2 linked regions of the Homo sapiens genome follow. The protein of the gene in region 1 interacts with the protein of each later gene in a biochemical or structural test. Each region holds a gene or a part of one and is shown on either strand. Other genes may lie near its edges. The genes, in order: REPS2 and EPS15.

Region 1 (3,828 bases):
CAGGTGATCCACCCGCCTCAGCCTCCCAAAGTGCTGGGATTACAGGCGTGAGCCACCATGCCTGGCCTTAACATATTTTTTAATAGACTATTTTTTTTTTTCAGAGCAGTTTTAGGTTCACAGCAAAATTTAGCAGAGTACCCATATATCCCCTGCCCCGACACACCCGTAGCTTTCCTTACTCTCAACGTCCCACATCAGAATAATAGAGTTTTTACAATTGATGAACCTACATTGACACCTCATTATTCCCCAAAGTCTATATATTAGGGCTCACTCTTGGTGTTGTACATTCTGTGGGTTTGGACAAATGTATAATGACGGTTCCACCATTGTAGTATCATACAGAATAGTTTCACTGCTCTAAAAATCTGTGCTCTATTGATTCATCCCTCCCTCTCCACTAACATGTGGCAATCACTGATTTTTTTTTTTTTTTTACTGTCCCCATAGTTTTGCCTTTTTTAGAATGTCATATAGTTGGAGTCATACAGTATATAGGCTTTTCACTTTGGCTTCTTTCATGTAGTACTATGCACTTAAAATTCCTTCATGTCTTTTTATGGTTTGGTGGCTCATTTCTTTATAGTGCTGAATAATATTCCATTGTCTGCATGTACTACAATTTATTTATTCACCTACTGAAGGATATCTTGGTTGCTTCCAAGTTTGGGCAATTATGGATAAAGCTGTTATAAACATCTGTATGCAGCCTTTTTTGTTACATGCAGGAGATAAGCTTTTGACTCATTTGGGTAAATAGCAAGGGGCATGATTGCTAGATTGTATGGTGAGAGTATATTTAGTTTTATAAGAAACTGCCAAACTGCTTTCCAAAGTGATTGTACCATTTTGCGTTCCCATCAGCAATGCATTGGTTTCTTTACAGAGTATTTATTTTCCTTTGCTGACTTATTTTAACAGCAGGATTCTAGCACTAGGTGGAAAACGTATATGAGTTTCTGATGTGTGTCAGGTACTGTCCTAGGTGCTGAGGTTATAATAGTGAATCCAACACAATCTCTGTCTTCATGGAGCTTATGTTCTCATGTGAATGTTTTTACACTTCAGAGTTTTTATTTGGTTGAGAAAAGACTTGAAATATAACATCCAAAAATAAAATGTCAGCCTGGTGCTGTGGCGCACGCCTGTAGTCCCAGTGCTTTGGGAGACCAAGGATGGGAGGATTGCTTGAGGCCAGGACTTTGAGATCAGCCTGGGTAACATAGTGAGACCCTGTCTCTACACAAAATAAAATAGCCGGGCATGGTGGCATGCGCTTGTAGTCCTAGCTACTCTGGAGGCTGAGGCAGGAGAATTGCTTGAGCCCAGGAGTTCAAGGTTATAGTGAACTATGATCGCACCATTGCTCTCCAGCGTAGGCAACAGAGCAAAACCCTGTATCAAAATAAAGTAAAATAAGCCTGTCAAACCCAAACCAAATACATGTCAAACCCAGACCTGATTCTTACCACACACTATGCCTTCTAGTAAAATTCTGGCCTTTGAATACCAACAAAATACTTCATAACCTGGGAAACCAACTACTCTAACGTTTGTTGCTCTGTCTTGAAATACTAAACAAAACCATTTACCTGTTCGTAGACATATTTTCTTTTTCTAGTTTAAAAGTATCCCATTCTGCCATTTTCCACCTAGTGCTAGAATCCTGCTCTTAAAATAAGTCAGCACAGGGAAATAAATACTCTATAAAGAGACCAAAAGACCTTTCAAAATAGGCTATGGCCAGGCCCAGTGGCTCACGCCTATAAATCCCAGCACTTTGGGAGTCTGAGGTCGGAGGATTACTTGAGCCCAGGAGTTCTAGACTAGCCTGGGCAAGATGGCAAAACCCCATCTACACACACACACACACACACACACACACACACACACACACACACACACACACACACACACCCCCGCTACCTACCTCTCTCTGGGGCATGCCTGTAGTCCCAGCTATTCTGGAGGCTGAGGTGGGAGGATCCCTTGAGCCCAGGAGTTTGAGGCTGCAATGAGCCATTATGACACCACTGCACTCCAGCCTGGGTGAAAGAGCCAGACCCTGTCTCATAAAATAAATAAGTAAATAAATAAAATATCTACCTTAAAGCAGCAAGTTTTGTATTTGATGTAATGAATTAACAGACCGCTTTATAATATCTATCTTTTAGGATAGTGTCAGTCTCTTGGAATGCTGTGCATGAGTCATCATTAAAATTGGTTTTCATTAAAAAAATTTTTTTAACATATACACATCTTATTGGAGTTTTCTTTTAAAATTCAAAAATGGGAACATTATTTTTTCAAAGCCAAGTAACAGAAGAGTATATAAAAAAGTCAATTTTGTGCATATCTTTTTACATTTTCTATGCTCATGTAAAACATACATGACTTATGTAATTATACACATATGCTCCAGATCTCATCTGTATTAATTTTTTAAATTATACTTTAGTTCTGGGATACACTTGGAGAACGTGCAGTTTTGTTACATAGGTATATATATGTGCCATGGTGATTTGCTGCACCCATCAACCCATCATCTACATTAGGTATTTCTCCTAATGCTATCTCTCCCCTAGCCCTGCACCCCTGAATAGGCCCCGGTGTGTGATGTTTCCCTCCCTGTGTCCATGTTTTCTCATTGTTCAGCTCCCACTTATGAGTGAGAACATGCGGTGTTTGGTTTTCTGTTCCTGTGTTAGTTTGCTGAGAATGATGGTTTCCGGCTTCATCCATGTTGGTTTTCATTTTTGTGATAGTTAATTCTTGGACATTAAGGGGAATAATTATAAAACACTGTTGCTTCCATATCAAGGGAAATCACTGAATGATTAAAAAAAACCCAATAAGTGTTGTCTGATTGTTTAAACAGCTTTCATTGAGGTAAATAAGTAAAACAAAGCTGTGAGAAGTAGGGAATATTTAAACAATTTGTGCGCATGCCCTCACCTTTGGGGAGAAGTCTTTTCTGAAGGCTCTCTTCTGATTTTTTGAAGCAACTGTTTAATCATTAAAGAAAATTATAGGTAAAAGACAAATTCTTGTGAACTTTCGCTCATTGCTAGATTATTAGGCAGAACTATTTTTTAAAAATTTAAATGAAACAACTTTATATTTTTACATCTTTAGATCATATCATTTTGTAACTATACTTTAGGGAAATAGAGGCCAGCATATTAAAACAGTAACTAGGGGCTGGGCAGGGTGGCTCATTGCCTGTAATCCTAGCACTTTGGGAGGCCGAGGCGGGCAGATCAGCTGAGGTCAGGAGTTTGAAACCAGCCTGGCCAACATAGCGAAACCCCATCTCTACTAAAAATACAAAAATTAGCAGGAGAATTGCTTGAACCGGAGAGGCGAAGGTTGCAGTGAGCTGAGATCAGGCCATTGCACTCCAGCCTGGGAGACAAGAGTGAAACTCTGTCTCAAAAACAAACAAACCAAAAAACAAACACACACACACACACACACACACACACACACACACACACACACAAACACACAAACCAGTAACTAGGACTAACTATATGCTGTTTTAGATTGACAGTATTCTTTTTTTCTAAAAGAGAATGAATGCCAGCAGATGTAGGAAGTACCAGAGCTAAACCATTGCCTGGTTAAAAGGAGTACCTCTGCATAATAGTTACTTGTTGACTCTTTTGTAATAAAATATTTCAGGCATGTAAAACTAGACAGTTACCCAAGAAATAACTGTGTATCCACCACTCCGTATAAGTAAAACAGCCCAGCTAGAGTGAAAGCCTGCTATGTCCCCTTCTCTGGTCCCATTCCCCTCCCTCCCTACCCTGGAGTTACCAG
Region 2 (3,828 bases), on another chromosome or scaffold:
GAAACCCCGTCTCTACTAAAAATACAAAAATTAGCCAGGCATGGTGGCGCATGCCTGTAATCCCAGCTAGGGAGGCTGAGGTGGGAGGATCACTTAAGCCCCAGAGGCAGAGGTTGCGGGAGCTGATATAGTGCCACTGTCCTCAAGCTGAGTTACAGAGCGAGACTCCGCCTCAAAAAAAAAAAAAAAAACAAAAAAAAACAAATCTGGTTGGAAGGAGTCTTGAACAACAGCTGAGGCATTTTGCTCCAAAATCTCAATATAGTATAATAAAAAACAGCTTATAATAAGAACATCTTCTTTTTTCATTGTGAAAGATGTGGTTAAGCATTACACGTTTCAAAGTTTTGCTTAATTCCCTAGGGAAAAAAACTACCATTTCAAAAGCCTGACAGTGTATTTTATTTCATCCTTTCATGAAGGATTTTCTATGTAACAAGACTTGAAACCAATTAGAATTTTTAATTTAGTATTTGCCAAGGTTGCTGTTTGGGGTAGATAAAAATATTTCCCCAACATAATAATTATGAGTGTTAAGATTTTATTTAGACTGGTCTAAAAGTTCCCAAAGCCTGGAGAAATCTTCATAATGCTTTTTGTTTTATTTTTATTTTTTTTGGCTCACTCCGTCGATCTGGCTGGAGAGCGGTGGTATGATCACAGCTCACTGCAGCCTCAACTTCCCAGGCTCAGGTGATCCTCCCAGGTAGCTGGAACTACAGATGTGCACCACCACACCTGGCTAATTTTTTTTGTAAAAACAGAGTTTTGCCATGTTGCCAAGATGAACTTCTTGAACTTCTGAGCTCAAGCAATTGGCCCACACCCACAGAACTAGGATTACAGATGTCAGCCACCATGCCTGGCTCAAAATGCTTTTTATAAAATATGATTAGGTTCTTGGGAGGCCGAGATGGGCGGATCACCTGAGGTCAGGAGTTCGAGATCAGCCTAACCAACATGAAGAAACCCTATCTCTACTAAAAATACAGGATTAGCCGGGCGTGGTGGTGCATGCTTGTAATTCCAGCTACTCGGGAGGCTGAGGCAAGAGAATCGCTTGAACCCGGGAGGCGGAGGTTGTGGTGAGCCAAGATTGCTCCATAGCACCCAGCCTGGGCAACAAGAGCGAAAACTCTGTCTCAAAAAAAAAAAAAAAAGATTAGGTTTAAATCACATCTTGCTTAGTATACCCAATACTTTAATATGATGTATAGCAAAATCAGCTTTTTTTTTTTTTTCTTGCTTCTTAGCTTTTTTACACATTAAGGGTTAGGAAACTACCAGTGGGATTAAATTAAAAATGATTTGTTGTGTGAGGGTCTCAGTAAAGTTGAAGTGGTAAATATTTTACATTACATTAGGTCAAAAAGGCTAGCCCTGTCCTGTTTTTAAATCTTCTAATCTACTATAAGCATTTCTACTTTTTTTAGTGAGATATATATATATATATATCACATTTAAAAAAAAAAAATATATATATATATATATATATATATATATATATATTTTTTTTTTTTTTTTCAGATGGAATCTCACTTTGTCACCCAGGCTGGAGTGCAGGGGTGCATTTTCGGCTCACTGCAACCTCTGCCTCCTGGGTTCAAGTGATTCATGTGCCTCACCCTCCCAAGTAGCTGGGATTACAGGCACCACCACCATGCCCAGCTAATTTTTGTATTTTTAGTTGAGAGCGAGTTTTGCCATGTTGGCCAAGCTGGTCTCGAACTCCTGACCTCAGGTGATCCACCTGCCTCAGCCTCCAAAGTGCTGGGATTACAGGCATGAGCCACCACATCTAGCCTAGTGGCATTTTTAACATTTAGTTTTATAGACTTTCTATCTATAGATTGAATTAATTTTTTAAATTAAACTATAGCTTAATAACTGGTTAATATTAAACATGTTTTCAGGGGGAAAAAAAAAAGAATTAACAAGTAACCAGACTATTTCCAGAGTCCTTCAGGTGTCCTTTTGTAAAAACTATTTTTCCTTCTTTTTACTTGCTTTACTCATTTATTTATTCGTTTGTTCATCGATCTTTTAAATGGCAGTATCCCTCTGAAGAAGATATGATCGAATGGGCCAAGAGGGAAAGTGAGAGAGAGGAAGAGCAGAGGCTTGCCCGACTAAATCAGCAGGAACAAGAAGACTTAGAACTGGCTATTGCACTCAGCAAATCTGAGATATCAGAAGCATGAAGAATTCTCTTGTTCTTTGGCAACAATATAGTATTCTTCTTCCTGAATACTGAAACTATTTACAATGTGTATCAAAACTACCTGTGAGCATGGGAATACAAAAGGTTTGAGATTCCTGTAAATGTGACAAAATTTTAGGATTTTTTTTTTTTCTTCATTACAGATTCGTCTTTTTTTTTTTTTCTTATAAAAGCCGTAACCCAGTCAGACAAATTCACCTTCACTTAGGCCCCTGTTCTGGTATACATTTACTGTGAGCTTTTGCCTGCCTGTGCTATTTTACTTGTAAAGCTAGAGCACCCAAGCTTCTGCCTTCTGGAATATAGAGAAATAGTTTCACCCTGCACTACCCTGTTCTGTAGTTATTCTGATGATAGCCAGTGAGGTTCTTAAAGTTTGCAGTATTCTCCCCTGATTGGAATGGTTGAGTGAGGGTAAGGGAAAGAATATCTTATTTCTTTTATGATTGGTGCAAATTGGCTAAAGTGCATTTTTAAATTTCCTCTACTTAATTTGTTTTTCAGAGATAAGGAAAAATATTTTGCACAGATTTACTCCACTATGGAAAAGGGATGCTGTAGGTTGAACCATTATAGCCTCAGATTCGATCTTTTCCTAACTAAAAATATTAAAGCCTCATGTGTGAAATAAATTTTTAAAAAGATTTATCTGGATTTAGAGAATTTTAGATCAACAGATACCTCTCAGTGTGTTTGCTAATTAATAAAAATCAGTTTCTTACAAATAAAGTTTGTAAGAAAATGTTCATTTTAAGTGATAGATAGTGGAGAAAATTTATCACCTAAAATATACCCATCAGTATAAGGCAAGCAAAAGTCTTAACATGGCAGCCATTCTGCCTTTGCCGTGGCCCTGTCCTGTTTAGTTCTTAGTGGGTTAATTTTTGTACTTTTGCAGAAGAAACTTCAGCAAGCTAGAACTGGAAGGTACTTTAATTTTTCATATATATTTGTTTTTTTTTTTTTAATGAAGGCTCATTTACTTGAAATGTAAAAACTTTCACTGAATACAAATAGAAAAAGTGATGTGTTTTATATCATATTGCTTTTTGTCCATCTTTGTGGTTTAGTTTATTTACTCACTTCATGTTTTTCACCTATAAAATTGTCAAGCTAGCAAAAAAACTCTTGTTTTTTTAATTGGGAGAGAAGAGACCTGCCAGATTATCAGACCTCTTCATGTTAAAAGACCATCTCCTGTAAAACTGACCTAGTGGACAAGCTGAATTTGAAATAGACTGTGAAGTAAGCTGTAACTTGTCATTTTAATTTTGTTTAACACGGTTACTGACTTAGATGATGTATTAAATACCAAGATAAAGAAAAATGCACCTAAAATCTAATTAGAATTCTCTGGGTCAACAAGTCAAGGTGGTATTGATCTGTGTTAATCTGAGTAACTTATTGCCTAGCCTATAAATAAATTCCAAAATATCCAATTCATTTCTTCTTGAAATGGTGCTTGTTTTGTTTTCTTTCCATTACACAATTAGACTCCTACAGTTTAAAACAAACTTTAAACCACTATCTTGCACTGCTAACTTTTTTCTACCTTTGTAAATAGAAACATTTCTGCATAAAAGTCATACATATGAAGCAAGGGCTGA

Evidence for each region.
Region 2: the proteins of REPS2 (region 1) and EPS15 interact in far-western blotting, tested with the Homo sapiens proteins (one study listed by BioGRID).

The regions. Positions count from the first base shown.
Region 1 is NC_000023.11:16,949,641-16,953,468, forward strand, and holds part of REPS2 (ralBP1-associated Eps domain-containing protein 2), read left to right. Parts: intron 1-3,828. UniProt on the Homo sapiens protein: Involved in ligand-dependent receptor mediated endocytosis of the EGF and insulin receptors as part of the Ral signaling pathway. By controlling growth factor receptors endocytosis may regulate cell survival.
Region 2 is NC_000001.11:51,355,073-51,358,900, reverse strand, and holds part of EPS15 (epidermal growth factor receptor substrate 15), read left to right. Parts: intron 1-2,054; coding exon 2,055-2,201; 3' UTR 2,202-3,828. UniProt on the Homo sapiens protein: Involved in cell growth regulation. May be involved in the regulation of mitogenic signals and control of cell proliferation. Involved in the internalization of ligand-inducible receptors of the receptor tyrosine kinase (RTK) type, in particular EGFR.